2 separate regions of the Homo sapiens genome follow, and region 2 is linked to region 1. Evidence: fine-mapped expression QTL. A gene starts in region 1. The other region holds a variant in brackets. All regions are shown on one strand. Distances are from middle to middle. Region 1 holds the start of CBLN4 (cerebellin 4 precursor). Region 2 holds the start of LOC107984001 (a long non-coding RNA gene).

Evidence for each region. PIP is the estimated chance that this variant, and not a neighbour inherited with it, causes the effect.
Region 2: its variant is fine-mapped to the expression of CBLN4 in testis (GTEx, PIP above 0.99).

The regions. Positions count from the first base shown.
Region 1 is chr20:55,997,523-56,013,557 of GRCh38, reverse strand. It overlaps CBLN4 (cerebellin 4 precursor), which reads left to right and starts at 8,039. Exons shown (of 3, transcript NM_080617.6): 1 at 8,039-9,677; 2 at 12,711-12,827; 3 at 14,804-16,035. The coding sequence starts at 9,387. The coding sequence ends at 15,001.
Region 2 is chr20:55,736,066-55,752,100 of GRCh38, reverse strand. LOC107984001 (a long non-coding RNA gene) reads left to right here and starts at 7,070. Exons shown (of 4, transcript XR_936884.3): 1 at 7,070-7,191. The variant G/A (reference allele first, on the strand shown) is at 7,081.

The DNA.
Region 1 (16,035 bases):
CTAATTATAATCTAATTATATTTAGTATATTAAATATTTTAATATGTATACATGTGAGTGTAATAAAAACATATATTCCCCCACCTTGGCTTATGGTCAATAGCCTTTATTAAAAATTTTGTGATATGAAGCCTGTCTTCTTCCTCTGAACTTTGTCACTTGCACATTATTGACATTAATTCTTCTTGGAATGCACTCAGCTTCTCCTCTGAATTTGGTGTCACCAACTACAAAATAATGAGTTCTGAGCATTCTAGGAGCTCCTTGCATTTTTGTTTCAACTTTTCTCATATTGTCTAGGGAAAGACCTTTGGATATAAGACAGATGTCCAGCCATGAAGTCTAACCCGTTTGTTGGCAGCAGCTTTTCAGATGCTGTATTTCCTTATCTGTAAAATGGTGGCAACAAGATCTACCTCTCACATGAGTGGTGGGAATTCAGTGGGAGAAATTATCAGCAATTGAGGTTACCCCAAACAAAACAAGACAAAACAAAACAAACAAATGTAGTTGCATTGCATTCCAGGGTTAGATTCTAAAATTAGTACGCAAGGAAAAAATTTCCTAGAGTCAAACTTACCTTGAAAATCCTTTTGAAGTTCTCACCATGGTGTCTGGTACACCAGCTCTCAGAGAGCTCACCGCAGCCAGTTTTCCTTTCAGTGTCAAAACAGATTGCTGTTTCTTCAGCTGAACATCAGATTAAGTGGTTGGCTTGTTTTAGTGGTCATGTTGTAGGAAAATACTTTCCTTTAAACACTAGAATCACACACAACGGCACAAGCTGCTCATATCTGAGAGGCAGCAGGAATGGAGCAGCAACAGCAGATCCGCACTTCCCATCTCACGCTTACAAAGGACAGATGTTCACTGAGTGCCCTGGCGAGGAGAGTTGCCTATTGGACTGAAGCTATTTTTCTCTCTTCCCACAAACCACACGCGCTAAAGTCAGGAAAGTTAAAAGTGTCTAGGACTCTCCATAGTTGGCATACTAGCTCCTAAGATGCCCGTGTTGGCTCCTGGATATTTAACAACTGCCGTGTTATTTTCTGGTGTCTACCTGGCTTTCTGAACTCCTGTTTCTGTGGTGACTGTTTCTGACCAGCTGTTCTTGACTTTCTGTATAATTTCCACTTTGAAGAATCCATCTATTTCCACTCAATGCTTCTTTCAGATGAGACATAATGATTGAGAGTATGGGAAGAAAGAAATAAAAATAAAATTAAACCTGTTGTTCATCCCCTGTAGGGAGCTCACAAACATGCCTGGTGTCTTCGCTTCATTCAAGAGCTTTAGCTCTGCATAATGATAAGCATTGATCTATCAGCAATGGCTGGCCCTGCAAACTCGGGTGTGATTATTTTCTGGGCATCTGAACCTGGATTGTCTCTCACACTTGGGTACACTTCGTTTTCCCCTATTATAATGTCTGTGAGGTTAAGTTGGGCCATTGCTTGCCAATAGTTAATGGGCCTTGGTTTAGAGTGTGGTGGTTTGACACCTTTAGTCATTAGTAGAGTCTACAGATTAATGATAATAATTGCTACCCTTAATTGAGCCTTTCCTGTGTGCCAGGTGCAGAGCTAAATGCTCTGCCCAAATTTCCCCACTCAGTTCTCACAAGAAGCTATGGACTGAATATGATTTTCATGATTGCAATTTTCTTGGATGAAGGAAGGTTTGTAACTTGCTGTATGGTCATAAAGCTAGTAGGAGGTAGAGCTGACTCTAAACACCCTGTTTTTAACCATAGAGCTAAAAAACCCGAATGCAAATGGACTCTTGTGGCATCACGCCAATGGCATCTACAAAGTCAAACACCATCTGCTTCAGATTTACCTGGGTGCTGGTTAAGTAAACCTTCCCAGTTCATGGGCAGAGCCATTATCTCAGAGTAAGGCCAGAGAGTCTCTGTTGGAAAGAAGCATCCCAGCTGATTCTTACAAGTAGCCATTGGTTTGGACCCCACATTTAGACTCTTCTTATCTACACAACATAAACACGAGTGGCCAGGCACATGTCATACACCCAGCACTGAGCTATGGCTTTCCTAGATGCTAACATACTATATAAAGAAAGCCAAGTTGAATAAAATGTAGCGAGAAATTTTGACAGCATGCATCAGTGTTACTAGTTGCAATGGAATTTTTTTTCTTAAATGTATACTGTGAGGCTTTCTATATCAGAGCATCTTTCTAAACTTGGAGTAAGTGATTTTTAGAGTCGGATCAGTATAACAAAAAAGGGAGATTGCTGTTCAATCAATGCCACTTTTTAAACTTTAATTAAGAGTAAACTATGGAGAAGAAGTGTGAATGTGATAGATCACTATTGGATGATCTACTCAGAAACCCTTTCTTTTTTAAAAAATATTTTAAATGTGGGCTGGGCGCGGTGGCTCACGCCTGTAATCCCAACACTTTGGGAGGCCGAGGCAGGAGGATTATGAGGTCAAGAGATCGAGACCATCCTGGCTAACATGGTGAAACCCCGTCTCTACTAAAAATACAAAAAAATTAGCCGGGCGTGGTGGTGGGCACCTGTAGTCCCAGCTACTTGGGAGACTGAGGCAGGAGAATGGCGTGAACCCGGGAGGCGGAGCTTGCAGTGAGCCAAGATCATGCCACTGCACTCCAGCCTGGGCAACAGAGCGAGACTGCACCTCAAAAAACAAAAAATTTTCAAACGTGAATCACAATGTAATACACAATTGCTGTGAGCACATATATAATAAGGAAACATCTGAAATACAATTAATAGTGTTTCCTTCTATTCAATTCCTTTAAATTTGACAAGTTGTTGCCAACTTGTATTCTCTGTGTATTGAAATACACACATATCTGTACACACTTGCAGGGAATTAACTTGGAATCACACAACACAAATTAGTCTGCCTCTTGTTCTTCTTCCCTTTGCCACATATTGCTTATATTAGCTTTCTAGGATTTTTCCTTTTCCCATGCCCCGCCCCAATTTTCTACACACCTCATTGCTGGGATATCAGTCACGTGTGCAGCATGATTCTGTTTCTACAGCCAAGTTGATTGGTTTGGGATTGGGCATCTGAACGCAGATGGCTGCAGTGCATCTCTTCTCGGGGATCTGGGGGCATCTCTGAGTGGATGGCTTTGTTATGTGTGAAATCTGGAAGTATCAGCTGCCATTTTCCCTCATGCGGGCCTCAGAGAACGGTAGATTGCAGTGAGCCAAAGAATAATGAAGATGTGCCCAGGAGAGGGGAAGAGAGGGAGGGACACAGAGAGAGCAGAGAGAGAGAGAGAGAGAGAGAGAGAGAGAGAGAGAGAGAGAGACAGTGGGGAGAGAGAAAGAGAGAGATGGGGGAGAGAGAGAGAAAGAGAGAGACGGGGAGAGAGAGAGAGACTGGAGAGAGAGAGGGAGAGGGAGGGAGGGAGAGAGAGAGAGAGAGAATTTTTTAGGTTCTTTCTAAGATTTTACTACAGTCTCAAGGTTCAACTCAACACATTTCAAGATGTGGCCCTTTCCACAAAACCTTTTCTCACTGGGCTTCCATTCTTAGTAACTAAGGTGGACTTGACGTTTTAAGCCCCCAACATTTCTGAAATAATTTTACTTTTCCTATCATACTTAGATCATAGTGATTAAATGTTATATTGTTTCCCTTATGAGAACTAAAAGCAATGATGTTACTTTATTCAGTAAACTTTATTTATGCATACCTACTCTCTGCTAAATTCTGTCCTCCCAAAGAGTTAATGGTCCAGGGAAAACACAACAATAAATCAACTAAAACCATTATGATAAATATAATGACTGGAACATGCTCAGGGTATCATGGGAAGCCAAAAAGGGGCATCAAAACCTGTCTGCAGCCATGACCAAGACGTCTCACTTCTCACTGATGTCTTAGACACGTACCTTATTTGCCAATGGGGTGAGTGGAATAAACTATCTAGAAAAACTGTCCCAAACAATTTTCAAATTCTAAAACCAATTGAGAAGTATTTTTTACAGCATCCATCTATTTTTTTCCCACAATACCATCCTCATATGAAACAAGTCTGTCATTTGGCTGTCTCCAGAAGGAGCTATGAAGATTTACTCAACATGACTCTGGAACTTTCCAGACTATGTAAGTTCTCACATATTGGTTGTTCATGGAGACTTTTTCTTCTTCTTCTTTTTTTCTAATATACTTTAAGTTTTAGGGTACATGTGCACAACGCGCAGGTTTGTTACATATGTATACATGTGCCATGTTGGTGTGCTGCACCCATTAACTCGTCATTTAACAGGTATATCTCCTAATGCTATCCCTCCAACCTCCCCCCACCCCACAACAGTCCCTGGTGTGTGATGTTCCCCTTCCTGTGTCCATGTGTTCTCATTGTTCAATTCCCAGCTATGAGTGAGAACATGCGGTGTTTGGTTTTCTGTCCTTGAGAGAGTTTGCTGAGAATGATGGTTTCCAGCTTCATCCATGTCCCTACAAAGGACATGAACTCATCCTTTTTTATGGCTGCATAGTATTCCATGGTGTATATGTGCCACATTTTCTTAATCCAGTCTATCATTGATGGACATTTGGGTTGGTTCCAAGTCTTTGCTATTGTGAATAGTGCTGCAATAAACATACATGTGCATGTGTCTTTATAGCAGCATGATTTATAATCCTTTGGGTATATACCCAGTAATGGGATGGCTGGGTCAAATGGTATTTCTAGTTCTAGATCCCTGAGGAATTGCCACACTGACTTCCACAATAGTTGAACTAGTTTACAGTCCCACCAAGACTTTTTCTTCTTAAGCTACTTACTCTCCCTCAAAAAAGATCATTAGCTTGGGCTGATAACTATCATTATAAAGAGCAAAGGGTAATTAAGCAACTCAGTGGAACTTTGTCTGGGTATGATGCAAGCCTCACTGCTCTCTCTCTCTCGATTTTCCATCTTCTGCACGACTGACCTGCGGCTGTCTCTGCTGCATGATGCATGGAGTCTGCTTTCATTCAACCACAGTGAGGCCCTTAGAGCTGAATACCTTGTGTGTGTCTGTCTTTGCCTTCTCAGAAACATTTTCTTCACAGTCAGAAAATAGCTCATAGATCCTTACTGTCTTGGGCTTGCTTGAAACTTGGTTTCTCTAAAGGATGGCTGGACAAGCAGTCATTGAATTTACTGACCTCAGAAGTATTGCTTTCCTATGCAAGGATAGTTTAGATTCTAATTTACTTTAAAGTTAAGCCCAGCTGCAGAGAACTGAAATGCATTTCTGCGTCATCTCTAAAGGTCTAGGAGAAAAAAAAAATCCTAGGCATCAAATACAATATGGGAATCTCAGAAAGGGAAAATATTTGGGTCACTGCTAGGTCTTCTAATAGCATATTTTCAACTGGAAAAATACAAGAAAAAGAAAAAGAAAAACAGATCTATGCTGTGGTTGGAGAGAAACTTAAACTTGATCTTGTTTCTTTTCTCCTGGGGATGCTGGGGCTGAAGTAGGGGGTGAGGAACAGGTGATGCCTCCTTTCCCAAAATGTTGGAAAAGCATTTCCTACAGGCAGGAGATTGGATTTGTTAGTCTTTTGGCAAGAGATCCATAGCCTTTTGTGGTATGGTTTCTGGGACAATGTTCTAATGAGGATTCTGGATGACAGGGAGCGGTATGTTACTAAAACTAGCTCAAGGGAATTGGGTTTTTATTTCAAAGACATAGGAGGATACCAAGAAACCCAAGGTTAGGAGAAAATGTTTCTGGAACTCTTGTAAGCAAGAGTTCAGAACTGGCGATTGACTATTCACTCCCTGTACTTCTTAGAAGTGCTCATGCTCCAGAATTGGCTTCTTTCTACAAGTGTGGCCAGTCCTCTGGTTTATTCCAATACCTCTTCTGCTTCAGCTTGCAGATGACTCCTACATGGCCACGTCAGTTTGGGAGACTACAAACCTTGTCTCTGCCACATGTAGTGCTTACTGGAAGCTATTTTGATGTCTCATTAAGATTGCAGAGAGAAAATCTGGCAGCCCCAAGTCATCTGGCCAAGTTGGACCATACAAATCTTGGACTTCTGGTATCAAATGCATTGATGGTCCTAGAACCCAGGGGCTATCCGTGTTTAATCAACTGTTGTGGGAAAAAGAGTCAGGACCCTCTGATTCACAATATAAGATAACTTCTCTTAGCGGGGGTCCACAGAAAATGCTGTGTTCCTTATCTTCAGAACACTTTGAAGAGCAGAACATCCTTTAGTAAGGAACCGAGACCCTTATCCCCAATTATTAAGGAGGCTTTGAATTTAAATTTTACTGAGAGAGACTCATTTAAAGCAGTTTATACTATAATATGAGTGATAATTACCTTCTATTAGGAAGCATTCAGTCATTTCTCAATTATTGAGTCTTTACTATGGTCACTATGCAGATTTTGGGACTAAAAATGAATATTTTTGGTGAGAGAAAGAATAGGTTTCTTCAAATCTCAGTTCTTGCGTGCAGGAAGTGCCTGGAGAAGAAAAGGAGGTAGAGAGAATATATTGGAATTGGTGAGGAAGATAGCTTATTTTCTATTTAACAATTCAACACAGTTTTTTTTTTTTTTTTTTTTTTTTTTTTGTCAAACTTCTCCCAGCCTGAAATTGAACAACCAAAGTTCTAGTTATTGAACAGCTGTCCCAGACAAGGAAGGCAGGGTGCTTACCCCTACAGGAAATAAAAGGAACTAAATTCAACTCAGCACCCACCCTCAAAAGACTGCATCAAATGAGAAGAAATTGCTGCTGTTAACCAGGCAGACATCCCTAAAATCTGGAAGAGAGTTACAAAGTGCAGAGAGGGATCAGGTGAAGATTGTGCTGGGCTTAGGGTGGGGCATCAAAGCTGGGTAAATGGTGGCCATCTTCAGAAGGCACTAGTTCACCTTGTTTGGTTGTAGCTTAGATAGGTAACTTTCAACATTTTAACAAATAGCATGGTACTAGCACCTGCCAGCCGGAACTGACACCGGCCTGTAGTCTCAGCTACTGGGGAGGCTGAGGTAGTAGAATCGCTTGAGCCCAGTAGTTTTGCATCTAGCCTGGGCAATATAGCGAGACCACCCCCCACCACAAGTAAAATAAAATCATAAAGTCAAAACACCTGATACTGGCCCCACTGGAGCAGAATCTGAAGGCCCCTGTGGCACCAAGTATTAACACTTTAGTTGAGAGATTATAGGGAGGTGAGGGTTAGGGGATTCCTCGTAGTGTCTTCAATTTTAACAGTTGGAGCTGGTGCTTATAGCTCAATGCCCGGCCCTTCTGAAGGAAGGGAAAAAGGCTGGAGACGAGGTTCACCTTGTTTTGTGGAGGGCTCGAATGCCACGCTCATGAGGGCGTCCTTCACTCAGGAAGGAATGGGAGCCGTCCATCCCAAGGACCTCCCTCAATAAACATCCCTTCCATTCATAACTAGCCAATGCCATTTTAGGAGCTCCGAATGCCTGGAGGGGATACTGTTTTGGTTAAAGATACCATACGTGTCTGCCCTCTGGCAGCTGGAAGTGTAGAAGAAATTGGGGAAGGGGCGCCATGACCCCACAGCATCACAGAATTGGAAAGCTGGCGGGATGGGGGTGGGGAGGACCTTAGTTAACGCCGCGCCCCCCTCTCAGAGAGGGTTAGTGACTCGGCCAAGTTCACGCAGCCGGGTCCAGACAGAGACAAACCTCCCTTCCCCGTGGTAGCTGCAGAAGAGGAAGGGAACTCTTGCAAATCAGAGGCCAAGATAGCAGTGGAGTGGCACGGGGGCGGAAAGCGCATCCAAAGGGGAGAAAAATGCTGTATTCCTAGGAGTGGGATTGTCTTTTATTTTTATTTTTATTTTTATTTTTTTATTGTTGTTGGCACGGTTTCGGAGGACTTATTCTTGCTGAGTTAACTCCCTCTCCCACTCTTTTTTTTGGCCATGCCTGGGGAGGATTCGCGGTGTGGGGGGAAGGCGCGCCCCTGCGGCTTCTGAGGCTCATCTTCCCGGAGCGGAAGGAAGGAATCAGGCACCTCCTCCCAGCCGCCCCCACGGGCTCTGGTCCGCCCCAAGGCTTCCCTGAGCTCGCCAGGCCCCAGGGCTGTGTGGGGCGGGCTCCCGGCCAGGCGCGGTCGGGACGCCCGCCGGTCCCCAGGTTCGGGGCAGCGCGCAGCGCGGGTCCGCGGCGGCTTATCCTTTTTCGCGACCCGGCCTGGCAGCGCCGCGCTCCGCTTGGAGGGCACTCGGCGGCAGAGTTCCGCGCTGGGAGGGGTGAGGGGACCAGCCGCCTCCTCTGCGGACTCAGATCGAGCAGGAGAGAGTGGGCGCGGAGCTGGGGCCAGCGCAGGGCCGTGGGCTCCTCTCTGGGCACGCATCCTTTACGCCACGGGCTTTCAGGGGCTGAGGGGCCTCGAACCTTGCCAATCACCAGTGCTGTGCGCCCCGCTTGCTTTGGGGTGCGTTAAACGTCAGGAGAGAGCTGCTCAGATGGGGTCACCAGACGCCTTCTCCCCCTTTTCTCGGAGCCCGCGGGTTGCGCGATAAGCCAACCCAGCCGGACGCTGCGCTCCTATAAATAGAGCGCGTGTGCCCGCTTCGCGCTCTCCGGGCTGCACGAGGGACGAGAAAGTTGTGCGCAGGGACTGGGGGCGGGCGGCCAGGCAGGAGAGGACCCCGCCGGACCAGCCGCCCTGAACGCTGCGCCCGGCGCCCTGGACCTGATCCTGCGAATCCGCGCTTTCGGTGCGAGGGACCTGGCTAGCCGCTGCCTCCCTCCCTACCTCTGGGTGACACCAGGTTTGGGGGATTTTTTTGACCAGGCGAAAGTGGGAGTCGCTGGCGTCCTGGCCATGAACACAGCCTCGCGTTCTTCTCAGCCTGGGAAGGACCTTCTGCCTCTGTAACTCGTCCCTGCCGCAAGCCAGACAGGACTGGCACCCGCGCCGCTGGGCACCCGCCACCCTTGTGGCTTCTCTTTGAGTCCCCTCTTTTTGTTCCTGCTCCGTGGTTTAGCTGGTGGTGCTTGAGTTTGGGGTGAGAATTTATTATTATTATTATTTTTTGCCTTGAGGTGTGAATGTGAGGGTTTGATGACTTTCAGATGTCTAGGAACCAGAGTGGGTGCAGGGGCCCCAGGCAGGGCTGATTCTTGGGCGGAGGAGAGTAGGGTAAAGGGTGCTGCATGAGCTCCTTAAAGGACAAAGGTAACAGAGCCAGCGAGAGAGCTCGAGGGGAGACTTTGACTTCAAGCCACAGAATTGGTGGAAGTGTGCGCGCCGCCGCCGCCGTCGCTCCTGCAGCGCTGTCGACCTAGCCGCTAGCATCTTCCCGAGCACCGGGATCCCGGGGTAGGAGGCGACGCGGGCGAGCACCAGCGCCAGCCGGCTGCGGCTGCCCACACGGCTCACCATGGGCTCCGGGCGCCGGGCGCTGTCCGCGGTGCCGGCCGTGCTGCTGGTCCTCACGCTGCCGGGGCTGCCCGTCTGGGCACAGAACGACACGGAGCCCATCGTGCTGGAGGGCAAGTGTCTGGTGGTGTGCGACTCGAACCCGGCCACGGACTCCAAGGGCTCCTCTTCCTCCCCGCTGGGGATATCGGTCCGGGCGGCCAACTCCAAGGTCGCCTTCTCGGCGGTGCGGAGCACCAACCACGAGCCATCCGAGATGAGCAACAAGACGCGCATCATTTACTTCGATCAGGTCAGACCCGGGGGGAAGCGAGCACCTAGGGGGTGGGCGGTCTCCAGGCACCTCAGCACGAGGCTGCCTGCCCAGGCTAAGCTGGTCCGATTGGGAAATGGGGAATCATGTAAAGCACTCGCCTTCCCAAATATGCCTGGGTCTGAAACTTCTACCGTCCCTCTTCCTACCCCTCTCACCAGCCCCGGCTCCCATTTCTTCCGGGCCCCTAAAAGAGGCTGCTGCGGCGGCGGGGGAGAGGCTTGGGAGCCCAGAGCCCGGCAGCGAGAGCTCAGGGCAAGTTTCGAGCAACAGGTCGGCGGGAGCCGAAGGGCACCTGGTCCCTGGACGTCGTTATCTCTTGGCCAGATCTTGGTGCCCTTGCTCAGACTCCTCTGCGGGTGCCGCTGAGGCTGCTCCCTGGGTACCTTTGCGGAACAGGATAAATGTTTGATTTGTTTCTCCCAGGTAGAGAAGCTTCTCTCCCAAGAGAGCCCCGGGCTTCCACACTCTTCAGAGATCGGGCAGGTGGCCGCGGAGGGCGGGGGCAGAGCCGGGGGTCAGATCTCGCCTGCAGGTTCCACTGTTCGTGTGCCAGGCACCGCTGGCACTGCCGCTGCCTCGGAGTAGGCAGCAAGCCCTTCTCCGGTACTTAGAGAAAAGTTGCGGAGGAGGGGAGGAAAAGGAATTTGGCAACTGCGCTGAGCTCCTGTAGGAAAGCGCTTGGGAGCCAGTTCTCCCTTCCCGGGCTCATGTCCTTTCAGAGAATTGCAAATAGCTGGGGAAAGACAGACTTTGAGGTTGATGAGAGTAGGGGAAGAGCTGACGGAAGCTGTAGCTGCTGTTTAGCGACCTGGTGCTCCGTGTTTGGCTTGATGAGAAACCCCAGGATATCAGCTTACCTTTAGCAAGGGGTCTTAAGGGAGAAAACTGTCCTCAGAGTTTTTAATTTCAGCCCCAACAGTATCCAGAGTCTTTTTAAATTCCAAATTCACAGTTCACAGTTGTATGCAAAGCTGCAATGTGCAGGGGGCACAGGTTAAGTGGTGTTGCAGGATGTGCCAGGGAAAGCACGAGGTGACATCTGTATTCCTTGCTTAATTTTTCCTAACTAATGCACTCTCCAGCTGGCCAAAGACAGAGAATGCCTCTCTAGGGGCTTAGTATTTGATAGACATAATTTTTAAAGAATTAAGTAGCTCCATTTGGGGTTTTGGTGCAGTATTTTCCATCTTGATGGAAATAAAGTCTAGCACCACCCCTAGTTTGTATTTCAATGCTTTAATTAAATGTTGGAATACTGTGGGCATTGCACTATCCTCTATACAGGGTGTTCCTTTCAATGACCTTTCCATCAATTAGAAGAGGAAAAGGGTTTGTTCTTCTTTTCAGTGAGCCTTGCATCTTAGAGACAAGAACACACATTTGGTTATAAATCTCGATGTACCTGGATGCTCCAATTACAGTGTAGAGTCAACATCCAGTTTTATATGTAGCCAACACTAATCAGCTATTTTCATTATTGCTAATGAATTATGCTACTTGTATCTGAATCAGGAAGTCACCACTAAGCACCTCAAATTATTTTAATTGTGCTTGAAAAATTTCTTTGTAAAGCCTCTGCTGGGGATTATTGCACAGCTGGTGACTTGTTGAAAGACCATCTATCATCAGGTTACAAAAAAAATCTGATGCTTACTTGGAAGAAGGCGAAATCTCAGAATGAAATTATACACGTACATGTGTTTTAAGTTAGGTGTTGAGCCTGATACATCTGCTTGACTGTCACTACATTCTGGTATGTTGCCCAGAGGTAATAGTACATTTTTAGGGAATTATGCAAGAGGCTTGCAAGTGTGTTAATATTGGCAAGAATGCAGTGTTCGAAAGAGATAGTAGCAGATTGCCATTGATATATGAGAAGTATATCTTTTTAGGGACCTCTTATTATTTTTGAATGCCACTTACAGGTGTATTTCTTGGAAAGAAATGGAACAAACCCTGGTTATTTTAACATCCATCCTCCATCCCAATCCCTCTTTCTCATAGAAAGAGACTTACCCATGTGACATTGCAAATTTAGCTTAAGAGGTCACTTATTAAAATTTAGAGTTAATTTTATAACCAATAGAACTAGGCTGAATATTTTGGAATACAAAATGCATTGTTGCTTTCTTGGGAAACAGTATCTAATTTCACTTTTGAACCTTGAACTTCAAATAAAGAGCAGGTGATTGATAGGAGGTTAATGGACAGCCCGGGGAGGAACAGGGAAAGCCACCTATTTCATAGTTTAGCCTTCTCTATGCTCTCCTCTTTGGCAGCCCACAAGGGCTGACTCATTGCCACATTATTATAATTAAGGCCTAGCTGGCACAGGAATGAAAAAAAAAATGGTAACAGATCTTAGGAGAGGGGTGGTGGTGGCTCAGAGAAGGGCCAGGCATTCAGATCACTTTGTGCACCAACTGTTCAGTGTCAAGGATTATGTCACATGGTGGAGGGGGTACCCATGCCTCTGTGGTTTGTCCAGGGATGCTGCGGAGAGCTCACAGATGCTGATTGGCTGGCTTGGAAACGTCACCTCTGGACATTGCAAAGGCTTGTAGAAGGTGGGAATGTAAACACATAGCGGGTGCCTTTTATCCAACTCTCAAGGTAAAGCTAATATTTATAAGTTCTCAAATGTTAGCTCGATGTTTCCAGAGCCATTGGGCCTTGCTGGAAATTGAGACATGAATACAAAGCAGTTACTTTATTTATTCTTATATCATTTAAAAGACAGAAGAACCTTCCAGTATTCCAGTCAATTTTCCAAATCAGTTAAGAGGAAAGATACAGAACTAGATGTTTTATTTTCTATGATTTCTTAAGCTAGTTGCCAAGAATGAATGAATGAACAAAAGAAAAAAGAAAAGAAAGAAAGAGGAAGGAAGGAATGAAGGAAGGAGGGAAAGAAGGAAGAGGAGAGGAAGAGAGTGAGAGGAAGAAAATTCATTTTAGTTACAGAAGAAAATATAATAACTTATTGTTATTTATTATTTTTATTTGTAGATCCTGGTGAATGTGGGTAATTTTTTCACATTGGAGTCTGTCTTTGTAGCACCAAGAAAAGGAATTTACAGTTTCAGTTTTCACGTGATTAAAGTCTACCAGAGCCAAACTATCCAGGTGTGTGTTTTGACCTCTTCCATCCATACTCTCAACCAACTGTGCTTATCTTTAGTGGGTTATATATTTAAGTACTTATCCAAAGTTGTGTTTCCACAATAGAAATAAGCAGCCATCTTTATCATTTATTTTAAAACACTTAATTTCTAATTTTTTTCTCTTTAACATCCATTAAGACGTGACAAAAAGCGTATAGAAAAATAGAGAATTGAAGTTATTACCTTAATAACAATCAAACATTTTTTAAAAATCCATGGTTGAGTAAAAATTCAGTGACACAAATCTCTTTGTAAGATCATGCTTTCATTTAATGCATGTACAAGAATTACTTGAACTCATAAGAAAAAAACTTGTAAGACTAGTACAGCTTTACAAGTGCATACTAAATAAATAAAACACATTTGCTATTTTTTAAAATTATGAGATACAGCTAATCAGTAAGAATAAGTCTATGAAGGAGGAACTATTCAAAATACATTTTTAAAAAACGGTGTTCTATGCGTATGCTTGTGTTTATCCTCAGTTACTCTGATGCTAGTGAATTCTTACCAACTGCAGTTCCACAGTTAATATATTTTGTGTTCTGCTTTCTAAGACAATGGGCTTGACCTTACATTCAAAAGCAACAGTGGAGCTTGTTCCAACAATATTCCAGTATGCTAATACTAAATGACACAAATACATGTGCATGGAATTCTAAGATAACCTTTTATCTTATGCTCAGTATTTATGTTATACATTATGTCAATATGAATGATAGATTACATGCTTATCTATTAATACTTTTACATGTCCTAGTAAATGGATAAATGGATCAGCCTCAGATTTAATTTATTCCATATGACTTTTAACCTAAAAAAATCTAGAAAACAAACTTACTTCCATGGAAAAGTTTTCCCAACCCCCAATATTTAGAAATGTATGCAATGCTTGACACAGTGTAATCAAAATTGAAGAATAGAAAATAGTTAATACAGTTTTGAGTTGATTCTAATTATCTGTCACTGAAATCTCTAAAATTTAAAATCTAAATCTAAAATCACTAAAATCACTAAAATCAGTGATAGTGGTGATTATTATTTTTTATTTTTTGGTTTTTCTCTGAGATAGGGTCTCACTCTTTCACCCAGGCTGGAATGCAGTGGCATAACCATAGCTCACTTCAGCCTCAAACCCCTGAGTTCAAGCAATCCTCCTGCCTCAGCCTTTTGAGAAGCTACGACTATAGGTGCATGTGACCAATCAGGCTAATTTTTAAATTTGTTGTTTTGTTTGTTTTAGAGATGAGGTCCTGCTATGTTGCCCAGGCTGGTCTTGAACTCCTAGCTTCAAGTGATCCTCCTGCCTTGGTCTCCCAAAGTGTTGTAATTACAGGCATGAGCCACTATGCCTGGCCTGATGATTGTTTTTGATGCTTGTTTCCTATCAGGGAAAATAGAAAAAGAAATAAACACACACAGACACATATATACACAAACTTCATTATTTCAATTGATTTTCAGTAGTATGCATGTTACAGCTGCACAAAAATTCGCAAGGATGTTGGTAGGATTGGGTTGTATCTGGGTCTCTTATGTCAGTGGGCAGAGGGTCTCTTTTACGAATGTACCGGGAAGCCACAAGCCTGCTCTATTTCCAAAAGATTATTGTTGGGTGGAAGAGTTAAGTAAAGCAGTAAGCTTAATTTATGTGCTGAAGGGAAGCTAGTTTTCACATGGCTAGGTTGGTCTCCATAGATGTTATTCTTTTGTAGGAATTTAAGGAAATTCCAATCAGAAAAAAAAAATTAAAAAAATCAGTTCAGCAGACATGTGAAGTATGGCCCCCACAATTGGCTAATTTGAAAGGAAGGGAATATATTTCCTGAACATCAGGTATTTTACTGGGTCTATCATCTTAGACATTATTTATTCTCCCCAGTAGATGTTTTGACTTTAAAGAGAACTTTTCAATTATTATTATTTTTCTTCTTCTAGGTTAACTTGATGTTAAATGGAAAACCAGTAATATCTGCCTTTGCGGGGGACAAAGATGTTACTCGTGAAGCTGCCACGAATGGTGTCCTGCTCTACCTAGATAAAGAGGATAAGGTTTACCTAAAACTGGAGAAAGGTAATTTGGTTGGAGGCTGGCAGTATTCCACGTTTTCTGGCTTTCTGGTGTTCCCCCTATAGGATTCAATTTCTCCATGATGTTCATCCAGGTGAGGGATGACCCACTCCTGAGTTATTGGAAGATCATTTTTTCATCATTGGATTGATGTCTTTTATTGGTTTCTCATGGGTGGATATGGATTCTAAGGATTCTAGCCTGTCTGAACCAATACAAAATTTCACAGATTATTTGTGTGTGTCTGTTTCAGTATATTTGGATTGGGACTCTAAGCAGATAATACCTATGCTTAAATGTAACAGTCAAAAGCTGTCTGCAAGACTTATTCTGAATTTCATTTCCTGGGATTACTGAATTAGTTACAGATGTGGAATTTTATTTGTTTAGTTTTAAAAGACTGGCAACCAGGTCTAAGGATTAGAAAACTCTAAAGTTCTGACTTCAATCAACGGTTAGTGTGATACTGCCAAAGAACTGTATACTGTGTTAATATATTGATTATATTTGTTTTTATTCCTTTGGAATTAGTTTGTTTGGTTCTTGTAAAAAACTTGGATTTTTTTTTTCAGTAACTGGTATTATGTTTTCTCTTAAAATAAGGTAATGAATGGCTTGCCCACAAATTTACCTTGACTACGATATCATCGACATGACTTCTCTCAAAAAAAAAGAATGCTTCATAGTTGTATTTTAATTGTATATGTGAAAGAGTCATATTTTCCAAGTTATATTTTCTAAGAAGAAGAATAGATCATAAATCTGACAAGGAAAAAGTTGCTTACCCAAAATCTAAGTGCTCAATCCCTGAGCCTCAGCAAAACAGCTCCCCTCCGAGGGAAATCTTATACTTTATTGCTCAACTTTAATTAAAATGATTGATAATAACCACTTTATTAAAAACCTAAGGTTTTTTTTTTTTCCGTAGACATGACCACTTTATTAACTGGTGGTGGGATGCTGTTGTTTCTAATTATACCTATTTTTCAAGGCTTCTGTTGTATTTGAAGTATCATCTGGTTTTGCCTTAACTCTTTAAATTGTATATATTTATCTGTTTAGCTAATATTAAATTCAAATATCCCATATCTAAATTTAG
Region 2 (16,035 bases), 260 kb after region 1:
ACATATACTATTATAATACATTATTATAATACATATATTATGTCATTATATAATATATAATATGACATATATTATATATTGTAAAATAATATAAAATATGACATATATTATATATTGTAAAATAATATAAAATATGACATATATTATATATTGTAAAATAATATATAACATATAATATATCATCTGATATAATTAATGTTATATTAATTTGTAGTATAATATATAGATATTACATATTAATATATGTAATATATAAATATATAACATATATCTGATATATACTTAATATCTGATATATACAGTTATATATTTTATATATTTGTATTCTATATTATATAATATATATTATATATTACCAATTATATATGAATATAACCTTATATATTAGTATATTATCTGATATGATATATTACATATTAATCATATATAATATAATCATATATATCATATCTTACATATATAATACCATAATACATGCAATTATATAAGTATATATTATGAATATGTAGCATTCATATAATGACTCTATCATGTGATGATATAATGACTATATCATACGGTGTTATGAATGATATATATTATATATCATTTTTTAATATAATAAAAAAGAATGAGGATAAGTACCTGGAAGAATAATATATATATAAAAATTACATATAATAATTATAGGCATTTTTATATTACATAATTATATAATAATATAATTCTATTGTATAATTATGATAGTATACATTATATTAATGTATCATATATTAATAAAATTGAATATATAGTAATATACATTACATATTTATACATTATATTAGTATAGAATAGTATACTATATAATTATAGGCGATAATTACTATATGTAGTAGGTTATATATATTAAACTTTGTATATAATATATATATAGTTAACTTTTTGTTCACTTGCTCTAGTGCTTACTAATCAACCAGGGCATGAATTTTCATATCAATCCCAGTTCTTAGTTGTAAATGCGACATTCGGCCATGTCTATTGGGTATTATTTCTGATGACTTATTTTAATAACGGGGAGGTGATAATTTGATCTGTTTTAAATCAGGGCTTCCTGGTAATATGACAGTGCATTCCACTTGACTGAGAGTTTCTTCATTATTGTTCCTCATTCAACTTCTGAAAAATATTCCATGTATTTTTTTTCTTCAGGAATTCTATAGCTGTGTCCCAACTACCTGCTTTACTTAATACATTTATTATCTCATAAAACAACTGGTAGCAGGTGAGGACAGGTACATTTTCTTCATCTTCTGTGTACCTCGTAAGATCTTGCCCAGTAGTATTAGCACACAGTTCCTTGGGATCTGGGTCATGGTGTTCCCAAGGTACACTGCCTGCACATGGAGACTCCACAAATGTTTGTTGAATGAATGAGGATAAGTGCATGGAAGAACACTGATTAATTATTTTTGAATAGTTGACAAGTTTTGAATTAGGTTAATACTCTTTTTTATTATTTGTTAATAGAAATGGTGACCTGTTGATTTCTAGTATAGGAATCTAGGTACTGATAGATATGCTGTAGGCAACTTGTGTGCCTAAGAGTATTTTCACTTAAGAGTTTAGTTAAAATTAAGGGACAGTGCCTAGAAATAAAGCCCAACTTCAGTGGATTCCCAATTAAATGCCTGAAATCTCTATGGTAAGTAGGTGGCATATAAACAAATGCACATAAAAAGAATTCCAATGATGTACAATGGTTAAAAATGACATATTGTATTTTAAGTCAGTTTTCTCATTATTACAATATTATTAAGTTAGTTTTCTCATTAATAGAGAGTTATATATTGCATATAGTATTTTCCAGTGTTCCTTTGATAATTTTTATTTTGTGCTCTCTGATTATAGAAAATGTTGAAAAAAAAGAACCATCCAAAAAATAATCTATACCATTCAGATAATACTACTACTTCCTTGATAAACTTTCTATAGTTATTTATAAGAAGTACATTTTTAGTTCTTTCTGTATGTATATATTATTGCGATTACATGGTATTTTCAGGCCTGCTTTTATTTTATTCAGCATTATATTAGAATTATTTCCCCATGTCACTAAATATTCTTTGAAAATATTTTTCTCCCAATGGTTGTATAATATGACATTACACGGATACATCAACATTATTTAAGCAGTATTCTGTTCTCTGGCATTTAGGTTGAATATCCTTGTATATATGTGTGCTTTTACTTTTTCCTCCCACAGTTTAATAAGAATTGACTCCTACATATGAAGTAATTGGTTAAAGGTTTAAGACCATCTTAAGGCATTTGATGCACATCAACACATTTTTCAGAAAGTGCTGCCAACTTCACTAACACTCACAGTGAAAGGGAATTCGTATGGTATTATGCCATTGCCTTTGCTAAATATTGCTATTTTATTTAAGAAGATGACCAGTTTGATGGATTCATATTACAAGCTCCCAGTGATTTAAAATAGAGTGCTCTCTAAAATAATATGGACCACAAGGCACGTTCAATTTTCAGAAGCCTGAAAGTTGTAGATTGTATTGTATAGGATAGTAGGTAGAGATGTTATGAGAGCCTAGAACGAATAGCTGCTTATTGAGTGATAACATTTTGACTTTTTTTTTTTATCAGAGCAAACATCCCTGTTGCTGTATTATTAATTTCTCAGAAAAGCATGGCGTTGAATACTTTTCTATTTATATGGTCCTCCCACCACCCGCATCCAATCCCTAATTAGCTACCCTCTATGGGAATACGTATAGAAATGTGTTGGAGATATTTTTTTCCTTCAACTTTTAAGTTCAGGGGTACACGTGCAAATATGCAGGTTTGTTACATAGGTTAAGCACGTGCCATTGTGGTTTGCTGCACCTATCAATCCATCACCTAGGTATTGGGCCCAGCATCCATCAGCTATTCTTCTTGATGCTCTCCCTCCCCCCTGCCCCACCCCTGACAGGCCCCAGTGTGTGTTGTTCCCCCCAGTGTTTCCATGTATGTCATCATTCCACTCCCAGTTATAAGAGAGAACATGTGGTGTTTGGTTTTCTTTCTTTTTTTCTTTGCTTTTCTTTTTGAGATGGAGTCTCGCTCTGTCACCCAGGCTGGAGTGCAGTGGCACGATCTCGGCTCACTGTAATCTCTGCCTCCTGGGTTCAAGCAATTCTCTGCTTCAGCCTCTCGAGTAGCTAGGATTACAGGCACCCACCACCACGTCCTGTTATTTTTGTATTTTTAGTAGAGACAGGGTTTTACCACCTTGTCCAGACTGCTCTCGAGTGCCTGACCTTGTGATCCATCCGCCTTGGCCTCCCAAAGTGTTGGGATTACAGGCTTGAGCCACCGCGCCTGGCCAGTGTTTGGTTTTCTGTTCCGGTGTTAGTTTGCTGACGATAATGGCTTCCAACTCACATGATCTCTTTCCTTTTTATGGCTGCATAGTATTCCATGGTGTATATGTACCACATTTTTTTATCCAGTCTATCAATTATGGGCATTTAGATTGAATCCATGTCTTTGCTATTGTGAATAGTGCTGCAATGAAGCTACGCATGCATGTGTCTTGATAATAGAATGATTTATATTCCTTTGGATGGAAATATTCTTTTCCTCTTATAATTTGCATAGCAAATTTGCCTGCTTTAAAACATAGAAATTTGTTTTAAATATATAATTTTCCTGCTTTAAAACATAGAAACCAGGTCATTTGGAATGTATTACAGCTTTGTGGCATCTAGCAAAAATTGAATACATGTATTTCAGAGTTATCTTTACCTTATTCATCAAAGAATAAGGGGCTTATTTCCCAAATTAATTTATATGTGATTCCCTCAAGGTGAAGATCCAGAGTCATTTTGTTCACCATTATAAAACCTTACTCATAGAGGGTGATCAAAATATACCTGATGCACAGAGAGAAACCCATATTCTTTAGTTATAAATGACAGAATACTGTAAGAGGTTTAGGCTCATAGGAAAATTATCTGAATTTAGAGGACATATTGCACACAAGAGGTAATAAAAAAAGAAATGGCAGAGGTTAGAATTTCAGTTTTGATTAAAGGAAATACTTTCCAATAAGAGAATTAATATGTTTTCTCTTTTCTTACTCCTGAGCCCACTTTAGTTTCCTTCCAAGCTAGAAAAACAAGAAAAATAAGTGAAATCCAGCTCTCCATTGATGACTATCTAACCATTGGTGGTTTGCAGGCTTGCGTTCTGTTCTGTCTGATGAGGACATCATATTCAGACATGGGCTGTTGAGAATCCCATTGGCTATCACAGACTCCCTGCTGCATAAATTGTGTCACAACAAAGGCTTTGACTTTGGTTCTTTCTTCTCCTCTCTGAGGAGCCCAGTGTGAGGGATCCAGTGTGGCACAGCTCTTTGTAGTCTCTCCATTCATCTTTGAACTTTCTCAAACACCCATGAAAAAGATACTTTATGAGCACTATCATTTTCTCAATTTTTTTATTTGTGTATATCTTTAACATCCCTTTACACATAAATTACTTAGCAAAAATTGGTTGGATGTTCTTGAGTAATTTTATTTATTCCATTCCTTGGCATGTAAGTATTTTGTTCACCTTTTAGGAGCAAAGCACTGGAGCCAAATCATACCAGGTCTCTGCTGGGAATCATATATTAATAAAATCCTCAACCAAATCTATATGTAATTGCTACCAATAAAAATACCTTAATGGTAATGAACATAGTGCTATGAGATTGTTTAATAGGATTGTTTCACTCAGTAAGAAAAAGTAGGTGGAGAGGAGGATTTCTGGCAAGAGAAAGGGCCTACAAAGACGCTGAACCTTGGGAAGAATGAGAGACCTTTGCAGATGAAACTCAGAGAGAAGGAAGATGAGATCTATTGAGGCTGGGGTAGGAAGCGAAGGCTGGATTATTCAGAACCTTGCAGGATTTTGGTCTTTGATCCCAAGAGCAATAAAAAGTCACTGAAATATTTTAAGTAGAGGGTGACATGATTGTTTTTGCTTTTTGTATATAAACTTTCTACTATAGAGAATTTTAAGTATATTTTTAAAATGGAAAAATATTAAACCTCCATGCACCAGTCTACTAGCTAACATTGTTCAACTCATGGCCAATTATGTTTCACCTGTGACCCAACCCACATACCCCTGCATCTTGTCACATTTATTTGAAGTAAATCTCACATACCTTATCATTACGTCACTAAGCATATCTTTAAAAGTCAAGAACTCTCATTCCAAAAAATAAGCAGGAATATCTTTTAAAAGCTCCAGTGATTTTTAATATGTAATATCATCAAATATCCAGTGTTCAAATTTTCCCAGTTGTAGTGTGTGTGTGTGTGTGTGTATATATACTTTCTTTGAATCAGGGTTCAAATAAGATTCATAAGTTGCAGTTATTGATATATCTCTTAGGTGTGTTTTAATGTGTACATTCTTCTACCATCTCTATTTTTATTCCTTGCAATTCATCTGTAAAGAACCATGTTGTTTATGCTAGGCATATCCCACTGTCTGAGTTTTGATTGGTGCATTTCCGTGGTGGTTTTAACGTATTTCTCTGCCTTTGGTATTTCCTGCAAATTAGACCTTGAGAGGCTTTTTACATTGCGGATTCCATTTTTTTGGCACGTTGATCTCATAGGTGGTGGTTTGACCATGAGGAGGCACATAGTTGTCTGTTTTTTTCCCTCTTTAAGTGATATTAGCAGCCATTGATAATCATTGCCTAACTTCCATTAATTTACTGGAGTTTTAAATAGTGATGTTTGAATTCTATAATTTCTTCTTCATTCATTCCAAGAAGTGGAACGTTTTATAAAGAGAAGTTTCTTCATCAGCTGTTTAGTTACCCTGAGTTTGAATCCACATAGGAAAGGGAGATACATGCTTGTCTTTCCCTTTATTTAACATTTTTAAAATAAAGAAATTTCCTACATTTCTCCAATGAGGGATTTTTTTCATTTGATTTTATTTTTAGAATCAGTATAGATGTATGGATTTAAACTTATTTCGTTGTTTTAATGAATTGTACTAATTGTCTTCATAGGCCAAAATAGCAAAGTCAGCACTAAGTCTTAGGACTATCAGAATTCCCACCTAAATCTTTAGCTGAGGCCTGGAAGTTGAGCCTAAGCTATCTGGGCATTATAAAATGGGAGATTGGATAGGGGGAATGAAGGGCATGTGAAAATCCTTTGCTTGCCCCCTATTAATTTGTGTCTTGAAATGTCTATATCATCTCAAAGGATCTAAGAATGGTCTGGCCCACAGATGGGAGGGAGGCAGTTATAAATGTGGAAAATCACAGAACAAGGTTATTGTATTAATTTTCTGTGTTATATGATTTAACCACAAATTTAGTGACTTAAAACAACACTCACTTATTATCTCGGTCTCCATAGATCAGGAGTCTGAGTACGCAGCTGATTCTCATGCTTGGAATCTCAGCAGATTGAAATCAGGTGCTGGCCATGGCTGCACGCCCATCTGAGGCTTGGGGTCCTCTTCCAAGCTCACTGGTGGAACAATTTAGCCCCTTGCTATTATAAGACTGAATCCCACAGCTCCTAGAGGCCACCCACTGTTTCCTGTTATGTGGAATTGCTCAAAACAGGGCAGTTTTTCTCTTCAAGGCCAACAAGAGGGTATCTCTACTCTTTTGAGTCTCTGACCGCTGCACCCTCTTTGAATGGGCTTTCCTGATTCGGGCAGTCTCACCCAGGATAGTCTCCCTTTTAATTAACTTAAAGTTAACCAATTAAGATTTTTAATTATGTCTACAAATATATCCTTTGACATTTTCATATAATGTAGTCTAATCAAGGGAATATTACTTGGAGGAGGACAGATTCCTGGATGACCTTGGCTGACCTAGCTTTCCCACCTCCTGTTGGTAATTCTCAGAATAACTCCGGAATGTACTGAGAATGTAGCACCCTGAGATAAGGAGGAAGGGTGCGGAACAACCCAGGCTATGTCTGCATTCTTCCTAGAACAGAGTGTTCTGCAGCACGTGGGCTCAGTGAGCCAGGTGCTGCCCAGGGTATATAAACCCAGAGCCGTGCTGGGGTTTCTCAGCTGTGATGC[G/A]ATGCGGGGCATGCGTAGATGAGACTCCATCTGCCCGGAGCAGCTTTCCTGAGCCTTGGAGGATAGCTTCGTCATGGCTCCTAGACTTCCGTTTATCCTTGCTGCCTATCTGTGAGTGACAGGTCTGCTTTGCCTGACTTGTGTGAGCGTTCTATCTCACTGGACTAGACCTAAGAACTTTTACATTATTCTACCGTGTTCACAGGGGAAGGGATTAAACAAGGGCCTCACTGAGGGCCATGGTAGAATTTTTCTGTCTCAGATGTTTGTAGTTTACCGTGAACTCACCATATTGCTGGGTGCAAGGCATAGCCCATCTCTGGGCCTGGATTTCCCTGCTTATACCCTGAATATACTAAACTGAATTATTCCTAAGGCCCTCTCAACACTAACATTCTATGAGTTTACTAATCTGCTTTTCTTACAGTGTTTTTGATAGTTGTTTTTTAGGTTTATATTTTACAGCAGTTTTAGGTTTACAACAAAACCGAGTAAAAAGTACAAAAGGGACCGGGCATGGTGACTCACGTCTGTATTCTCAGCACTTTGGGAGTCCGGGGTGGGTGGATAACCTGAGGTCAGGAGTTTGAGACCAGCCTGGCCAACATGGCAAACCCCGTCTCTACTAAAAATACAAAAAATTAGCCAGGTGTGGTGGCATGTGCCTGTAATCTCAGCTACATGGGAGGCTGAGGCAGGAGACTTGCATGAACCTGGGAGGCGGAGGTTGCAGTGAGTTGAGATCCCGCCATTGTACTCCAGCCTGGGCAACAGAGTAAGACTCTGTCTCAAAAAAAAAAAAAGAAAAAAAGAAAAGAAAAACTACTAAAGGTTCCCATACACCCCCTGTCCCCATTTCCCCGCAGATGCACAGCCTTCCCCACTATCAACACCCGCACCAGAGTGGCACACGTGTCACAATGGGTGAATCTACACTGACACCTCATTGTTAGCCAGGGTCCATAGTTTACATTAGGCTTTTATTCATTTGACTTTATTTTGTTTTATTTTTCTTTCCCAGCTTTATTGAGCTATAATTGACAAAGAAAGATTGTATCCATTTAAAGCTGTATTCACAATTTAATGAATATTGGCCCCAGTGCTTAACACTGACACTTTCCACAAAATAAAAAAGGATAAAGAAGTCCCCAGATCAGTTAACTGCAAAAAGACACACTTGTAAATAATTAAATGAGCTCTACCCCTTTGATGGGTGGTTTTTTACACAGACTGTAAGTCAGTCATTGAGTTTAAAAGGCTTGATGTACTTAAATCTAGCTATACAGAACCCATACATTTGCCTTTCCAAGATAAATACTTATTTTAACAGGGTATGTTGTACATATGTTTTTTTTTTCTTTTTCATTGCACATTTCATTCTAAAAATAAAAACGTGAAAAAAACTTTTTCTTTGTTTTACAGAAATTGAAACATGCTAGAGTGAGTAATTTTTAATAAGAGGAACAGCATAATTAGTAGGAACCCCAGTTGATAAAATACCTGTTTAATTTAAGCAATTGGCAAACTACTTTTAAAATCAGACTAAAGTTAAATACAGTACTTGGAATTATTTTTATGTGCAATTTAGGGCTCTATGTAACAATATAATATATTTAAGCATTTACTATAGAATCCTGGGGAGAAAATTCAAATCTAGTAGCTACTTAACAGGGTGTCACTTCAACTCCCGACGTTTATCCCCTTAAGCTTTTGTCTACTTGAAGCACAAACTACGTGAAAGACACCATGGCATAGTCCAGGAGGGCCAGGGATGATTTGCAGTAGGTTATGCAAATTGGTGTAAGACAATGTGGTCACTTTTTAAAAAAAGGTATTTGTTCATAGCCTTCAATAGTTACAGGTAGAAAACAGCTGTACATCTTTCCCACAGGTTTGTTCCAGGGTGGCATATTAAAATGAATGCAATTTCAGTCTGAATGATGGAGACATCAATGTATATAATAAGTATTTAGAAAAGCAGACACAAAAGCAGACCTACGTTCTGTCCTGTAAACTCATCACAATCCAGTCTCTCCTTCTAGACCAGAGTTTCTCATTTTTGGCACTCGTGACATCAATTGAATAATTCTTTGTTGTGGGGCTGTCCTGTGTATGCAAGAGGTTTAGCACCTCCCCTGACCTCTGCTTGCTAGATGCCAAACTCCCCCACCCCCACACTGTGGCAATCAAAAATATCTCTGGATATTGCCAAACGTCACCTGGGAAAAGTACCTCATGGAGAACCACTGTTGTAGCTGAAGTTCCCAGCCGTCTCTCCATGACTTGGTGCTCATGTTTTCTATGTGCCTTATGGGTTACTCCTATAGCAACTAAACCACAAAGATATGTCTTGTCTTCTTGCTTTTCCCACAAATGTCTTACGTAGACTGGGGGAAGAACCAGTACATAAAGAGTGTTGACTGATTGTTTTAGGTGCTCTTCCTGTGTACTTCTGTTTTGTCTTTCCATGACATAACCCTTCATTCACTTTATCTTTATGTTTTAAATGCTTTGTTCTCCATACTAGACCACGAGCCCCTCTAGAAGTAAGGCAGAGTCGGTCTTGCTCACTGCTATATCCTCAGTATCAGTCCCCGACCATACTAACAACAATAACAGCAATAGTTATCGGGTGTTATGCTATGTGCTAGCCAAAACTGAGTGCTTTGCGTCTGTTAACTCATTTTATGCTCACATCATTCCATGTGCTGAGAATTACTATCAGACCCATTTTATAGAAGAGGAAACAGGTACAGAGGGGTTAAGGGAATTGACCAAGGTCAGAAAGCCAGGAAATGGTACAGGATCAAATTTAGGGAGTCTGATTCTGGAGTCTGTGCTTTTAACTTCTAAGCTATGCTGTAGATAGTGGGAGGTCAATGAATACTTGCAGAATGATTGTGCCAACTATGGAAGAAATGGCAGCAGACGAAGGAAGGCTGGGTGTGGAAATCAACAATTACGCTTTAAAGTAAAGGATCTACATGCATGACTTGGAAACCCAATGACTGTGAAGCAGATGGTGCTGAACGATGATCAGCCCAGGCAGGAGTGTGTGTCTGCCTGTTATAGGAGTGCACACACAGCAATTCAGGGTGCTTAAGCAGATGCCCATTCTGAGCTCTTGTATTGGGATTCAGGGAGCATATACCCTAAGCTAACCCAAAGGCTGTTGATTTCTCAAGCCTTCATATCTTGGCAGTTTCCATCTGTGTAAAATAGAATTTCCAAAAGGGCCCCAGTCCTTATCTCACTCCCTAAGAAAAATACAGCTTAAAATAATGTGATTGTACCTAAGTTGTTTGTTTTTAGTATTTTAGGAGTTCTTTTACAGATCAGTGCATAGCATTCATGTGTACAGTATCCACAACACCTGACGCTAAATCAGGATGAATTTTGAGAGCGCTAAGAACCAATGGGTCCTCAGCATTCTGTTCCCTGAAAGTCTTCACTGACGGAACTTGCCATTTGGACAACATCGATAGTGGATCACGTCTGTCATACGATCCAACATTAATGGATAGCCACTTGGCAAAAGAACCCAGGCAATGACATTGGCTCCAGCCACTACTTGTTGACACTTCCTTTTTTAAATTAATTTTTTAAAAATATGCAAAGTGCACAACATTGTTCCTCCCTTCATTCATGGGATAATTGAATTGCTACTTGCTTGAAATTTGAGGACTTAACAGATTAAGTAGATTAATACAGTCAAGCCAATAAATTAATATGAACTAGCAGATATTTATTCCAAATATAGATCCCAAATGACCTATAATATAGATTTTGATTGAATTCAGCAGTATCATGTTACTTCTAATACTTCTCCACTGAATTTACCTTGAAATCAGTGGAGAATAGAGAAGATAGTTCTGGGGATAACAGAAAGCCACTAGGGGAATGTCTGAAACCACTTTGAACTCTCTTGTTTTATCTTCAGCATACCTAGGAATTTCACTCTATTCCACAAATATATCATGCATTTATAATATCTAAGGTGTTTTAACTCCCACCTCTACCATATATTAAGTTATGTTGTCATTTTTATATGGTTGGAAAACCTCCATATCTACTATTCACACCCCTGGTACATACAGCCCAGTGATTGAGAAGCACAGATCACAGAAATGTGTGGTGAGACTAACAAAAAGACTAAGAAAGCACAGCCTTACCTTTTAAGGTGCTTAAATCTGGTATTGACACTTGCAGCTAATAGATGAATACTTAGTCCTTGAGACATAAGATTTTATATGTGTTATCTCTTTTGTTTAATCTTTACAATAATTCTGTGAGGTTTTTATGATGATGATGATAATTGTTCTTTGGATAAAATTGCCTTAAACTTAAGAATGCTTGGGCAACTTCAAAGTCATAAAGCCAGAAACTGGTAGAACTGGGGTTTGGACCCAGAAATTCTGACTTCAGAGAACACGCCTATGCAGCTCCTCACCTCAAAGTCCAATGAAAATGAGAGAATTCATTTACATATGGGGAAAAACAGCATAAGAACTTGTATTGACTTTCCAAATCTCATTTTAAATATAGAAGAATAATGTCCTCATTGTGAAATACACAAATTTGAAGTATACAGTTTGATGAGTTGGGAAATGTGCATACCTATGAAATTCATGTCATATCAAGATGTAAATCATTGACATCACCACGGATCGTTTTCGCGTCTGACGGGATTCTGCCTGGACAAGCCCTGCATCCCCAATGAGGCAACTGCTGTTCTGATTTCTATCACAATAGATTAGTTTTGCCTGTTCAAAGTCTTTTTATACATAGATCTATACAGTAGGTACTCGATTGTATCTGGCTTCTTTCACTCAGCATAATGTTTCTGAGATTCGTCAATGATGTTTTGTGTGTCCGTGGTTCATTCCTCTTTATTGCTGAATCCATACTCTCCTCCACTTTCATTTCTTAACAAATGAATCTGTCTGTGGGATTTAGGGTACTAAAAGGGGACTTGACAGAAAGGAGTCCACAAGTCTTCAATGTTTGCCATGCTATAGGTGTCTTTTGCTGGCTTGATCTGGCCTATGCCTGCACACATTCCTGTTGGACTCTGCTCTCTCAGCCCAATCATTTGGCCACAGCAGTGGATTGGATGAAAGACTGATTGATGCACAGGCTAAAGATTTGTGATGGTCTGGACCCAAGGAAAGCTAACGACCTCTGAGGTTCCTTCACACTAACTTGCGTCCTATAAGATAATTCTATATTTTATGGTGAACAACTGGATCCATTAAACCTTCACTTTTGGAAAATGTGCATGCAAGGCAAATATAAAATGCCATCAAAAAGCAAGCCAGTGGCGTTGCACTTAGGTCCAGTAAGCTGGGCTATGACTGTGTCCTGCTCTTGACTTCCTTACCCTGCCATTGTTCCCTGCAAGACTAAGGAAGAACAATGGCGAGCAGGATGATCAAGAGGATACCAAAGGGAATTGGGACAGCATGAAAAGGGGTGGGTAGTAACAGAGGTGGGAAGTTGCTTGAGTGTTGAGGGCACAATACTTAAGCTACCTTAATTAAGCTAAAGATCATGCAGTGAAGTAGAGGGCAATGAGCTTGTGCAGGTAAATTGGGTTCAAATTAGAGAATTCTGGAAAGCCAGAGTAAGCTGTTTATATTTAATTTCATAGGCACTGGAGAACCATTTTGAACATAGAACTGTGAGCTGAATAGCCCTTGAGGACAAATAATTTGGCAGAAAGCTCTACCAAGAGGTGGGAAAAAAGCAAGTGCTATATTATAACCTGAGCTATGGCGGCACACAGACCTGAGAAGGAAGGCGTGATTTCATTTCTTGCTGGAAGAATTTCTTTGACTCATTTTCCTGTTGGGGGGTGTGTGTGTGTGTGTGTGTGTGTGTGTGTGTGTGTGTGTGTGTAATGGACCTAAAACTTGCTGCTTTGCAGGTTTTAAGCATAATTAACCTCACTGTGTTCAGACCTTTAAGTTTATTATATTCTAGACCTTAAGCCAAGGCACAAGTAAACCCAATTAGGCTAGTATTAGCTTTGGATTAAATTATATTAACTATTAAAACAACATAACTTATACAGAGTCAGCATGTTTAATTCTCATTGTAGAAAACACTTACATGCTAACTTGATATTAAAACCTGAGAGAAAGCAAATCTGCATAATGCGATAAAATCACTTTTACTTTGAGAGTGAGATTTTTTCAGATAGTGAAATTGTTATAGAAACAAACTGCCAAAGTAATGTCCAGTCAGCAGATGAGAATCAGGAGAAAAAAAGTTTCTCAGTTTGGAGCCAACAGGTGTTGTTAGTATTAAACTGTAATTAAAATAAGAAACTAATTCATGTATACTTTGGTCTCTCTAAGAGTTAGGAGAATGGTATGGGAGAAACTAAAGCTATTAAATAAATACTTCCTATTTAGGATAGTATGTTATAGGAAGAGTGAGTGAAAAGAAAAAAAACCTAGGTATTTTCCACAGGTACTTACTCTTTCTGTTCTACATTTAACTTTTTTTTTCTACATCAACTACTTTATTGATTTTATTTCAATAGTCTTTGTGATACAAGTGGTTTTTGGTTACATGGATGAATTATATAGTGGAGAATTCTAAGTTTTAGTGCACCATTACCTGAGTGGTATACATTGTATCCAATGTGTAATTTTAGTCCTTCACTTCCCCTCCATCTTCCCCCTTCCGAGTCTCCAAAGTCCATTATACCACTCTGTATGCTTTTGCGTATCCATAGCTTAGCTCCCATTTATGTGAAAATGTACATTGCTTGATTTTCCATTTCTGAGTTACTTCACTTACAATAATGGCCTCCTGTTCCATCCAAGTTGCTCCAAAAGACATTTTACTTTGTTTTGAATCTGTCAAATGGTGGGAACATGAGATGTTAGATATTAGACATTATTATCATCAGTATTGTATATGTTTGAGTGTTATCATCATTATTATCAGTATTGTATATGTTTGAGTGTTTCTTTGATGTTCTTTGATGTATGGGTTATAATGAAATATATGATTCATGGTCCAAATATCAATATATATGGAACATCACTAATAATGTAGGATATAGTATAAATATTAACTATCTTCCATAGATAGAAAATACATCTCAAGAAAAAAAAAATGAATTAGATTTCCCTAGCAGAAATGCATAAAAGTGATGAACAAAGACTTTTAGGAAAACAATATCATCGCTCGTGCCCCTAGAATCCATCTCTGATGTATGAGAGTTATTCAAGATCTTTAGGAAGTTTAATTAGTACCTTTTATAGTAGACTATTTTGTTGTTGTTATTAAGAGACAGTGGAGAGTATTCTTTTAATGCTAGGCTGATGTTAGCATGAGTCCCGGCTGCGAGACCTTCAGCACATTGGTTAATCTTTCTGAAAACTGGCTTCCTCATCTGCAAACTAGAAATAATAGTGGTATCATAGAGGTCCTACCTCCTGAGATTTTTGTAATATGTAAATGAGACAGTGAAAAATAAGCAGAGTGTCTAGTATGTAGTAAACATTCAATAAATATCTCCATGAGATTTTGTTAGGTATTAAACTTTGTAGGTGTTAAAGAAGGTTTAGAAAGAGATTTCATCTGCATAGGGTAATGTCCAGTTAGACGGGGCCTCGTATATTTGGGCAGCATTTTGAACTGCAGATTGGGGAATAGTTCTTTACTTTGAAGTTTTAGAAATTTTTTTTCAGGAGAGATCAACTAGAAACTGGAACAAATAATTTGTACTCAAAAAAGACTTGGGAGTATATAGAAAATTGATTTATTCTTCTTTAATGATAAATAGAAGCTCCAGGTGAAATCCTTCCAAGCTTTTATTGGTTAAGCTTACTCATCTACACAATCAGAGTAGTGATGGTGTCTTTCTTCTTGATATGTTTCAGGTAATACATGGTTAATCCTAAGTACCTATTATAGAGTGAGAGCTCAATAAGGAGTAGCATATATCATTAGCTATTGTTGATGTGTACATTCTTTTATATGTAAAAGCGAAATGAGGATTTATTAAGATTTATGAAGAAGACTGCTTATTTTATTTGGAATCTGGGGAAAGAGTATATATTTCTCCATTTATCGAGATAGTTTGTGATACCTATGAAGCTTTTGCACATACAAAAAAACAGCTATATATTATATGCCACCTGTTTGTATACTATATCTATTGTTCTACAACTTGATATTTTCAAAAAATATATAGGGCCACACATTACGCTACTCAACTCATTCTTTTTAACAGTTGTATATTAGAATGGACATGCCTTGATTTTTTCAATGTATTATGACAATTTCAGGCAAAGCACTTACCTAAAATTTTCTTTTTTTAACTTTTAAGTTCAGGGTTACAACTGCAGGTTTGTTATATGGGTAAACTTGGGTCATGGGGGTTTTTTGTACATATTTCATCACCCAGGTATTAAGCCTAGTACCCATTAATTATTTTTTCTGATCTTCTCCCTCCTGCCTCCCTCCACCCTCCTAAAGGGCCCAGTATGTGTTGTTCCCTTCTATTTGTCCATGTGAAATGGGGGAAGACTTCCTGATTCAATAAATGGCTAATATGCAGAAGATTGAAACTGGACCCCTTCTTTACACCATATACAAGATTTAACTCAATATGGATTAAAGATTTAAATGTAAAACCCAAAACTATAAAAGTCCTGGAAGACAACCTAGGCAATACCATTCAGGATATAGGCCTGAGCAAACGTTTTGTAACAAAGATGTCAAAAGCAATTGCAAAAAAAAAATCGACAAATGGGATCTAATTAAACTAAAGAGCTTCTGCATGGCAAAAGAAACTATCAACAGAGTAAATAGACAACCTACAGAATTGGAGAAAATTTTTAAAAACTATGCATTCAAAATTTTCTAATATAGCAAAGTTAAGAGAATTTTATTATGGCCACATATATACCCACCACCTAGATTCTAACATTAAGA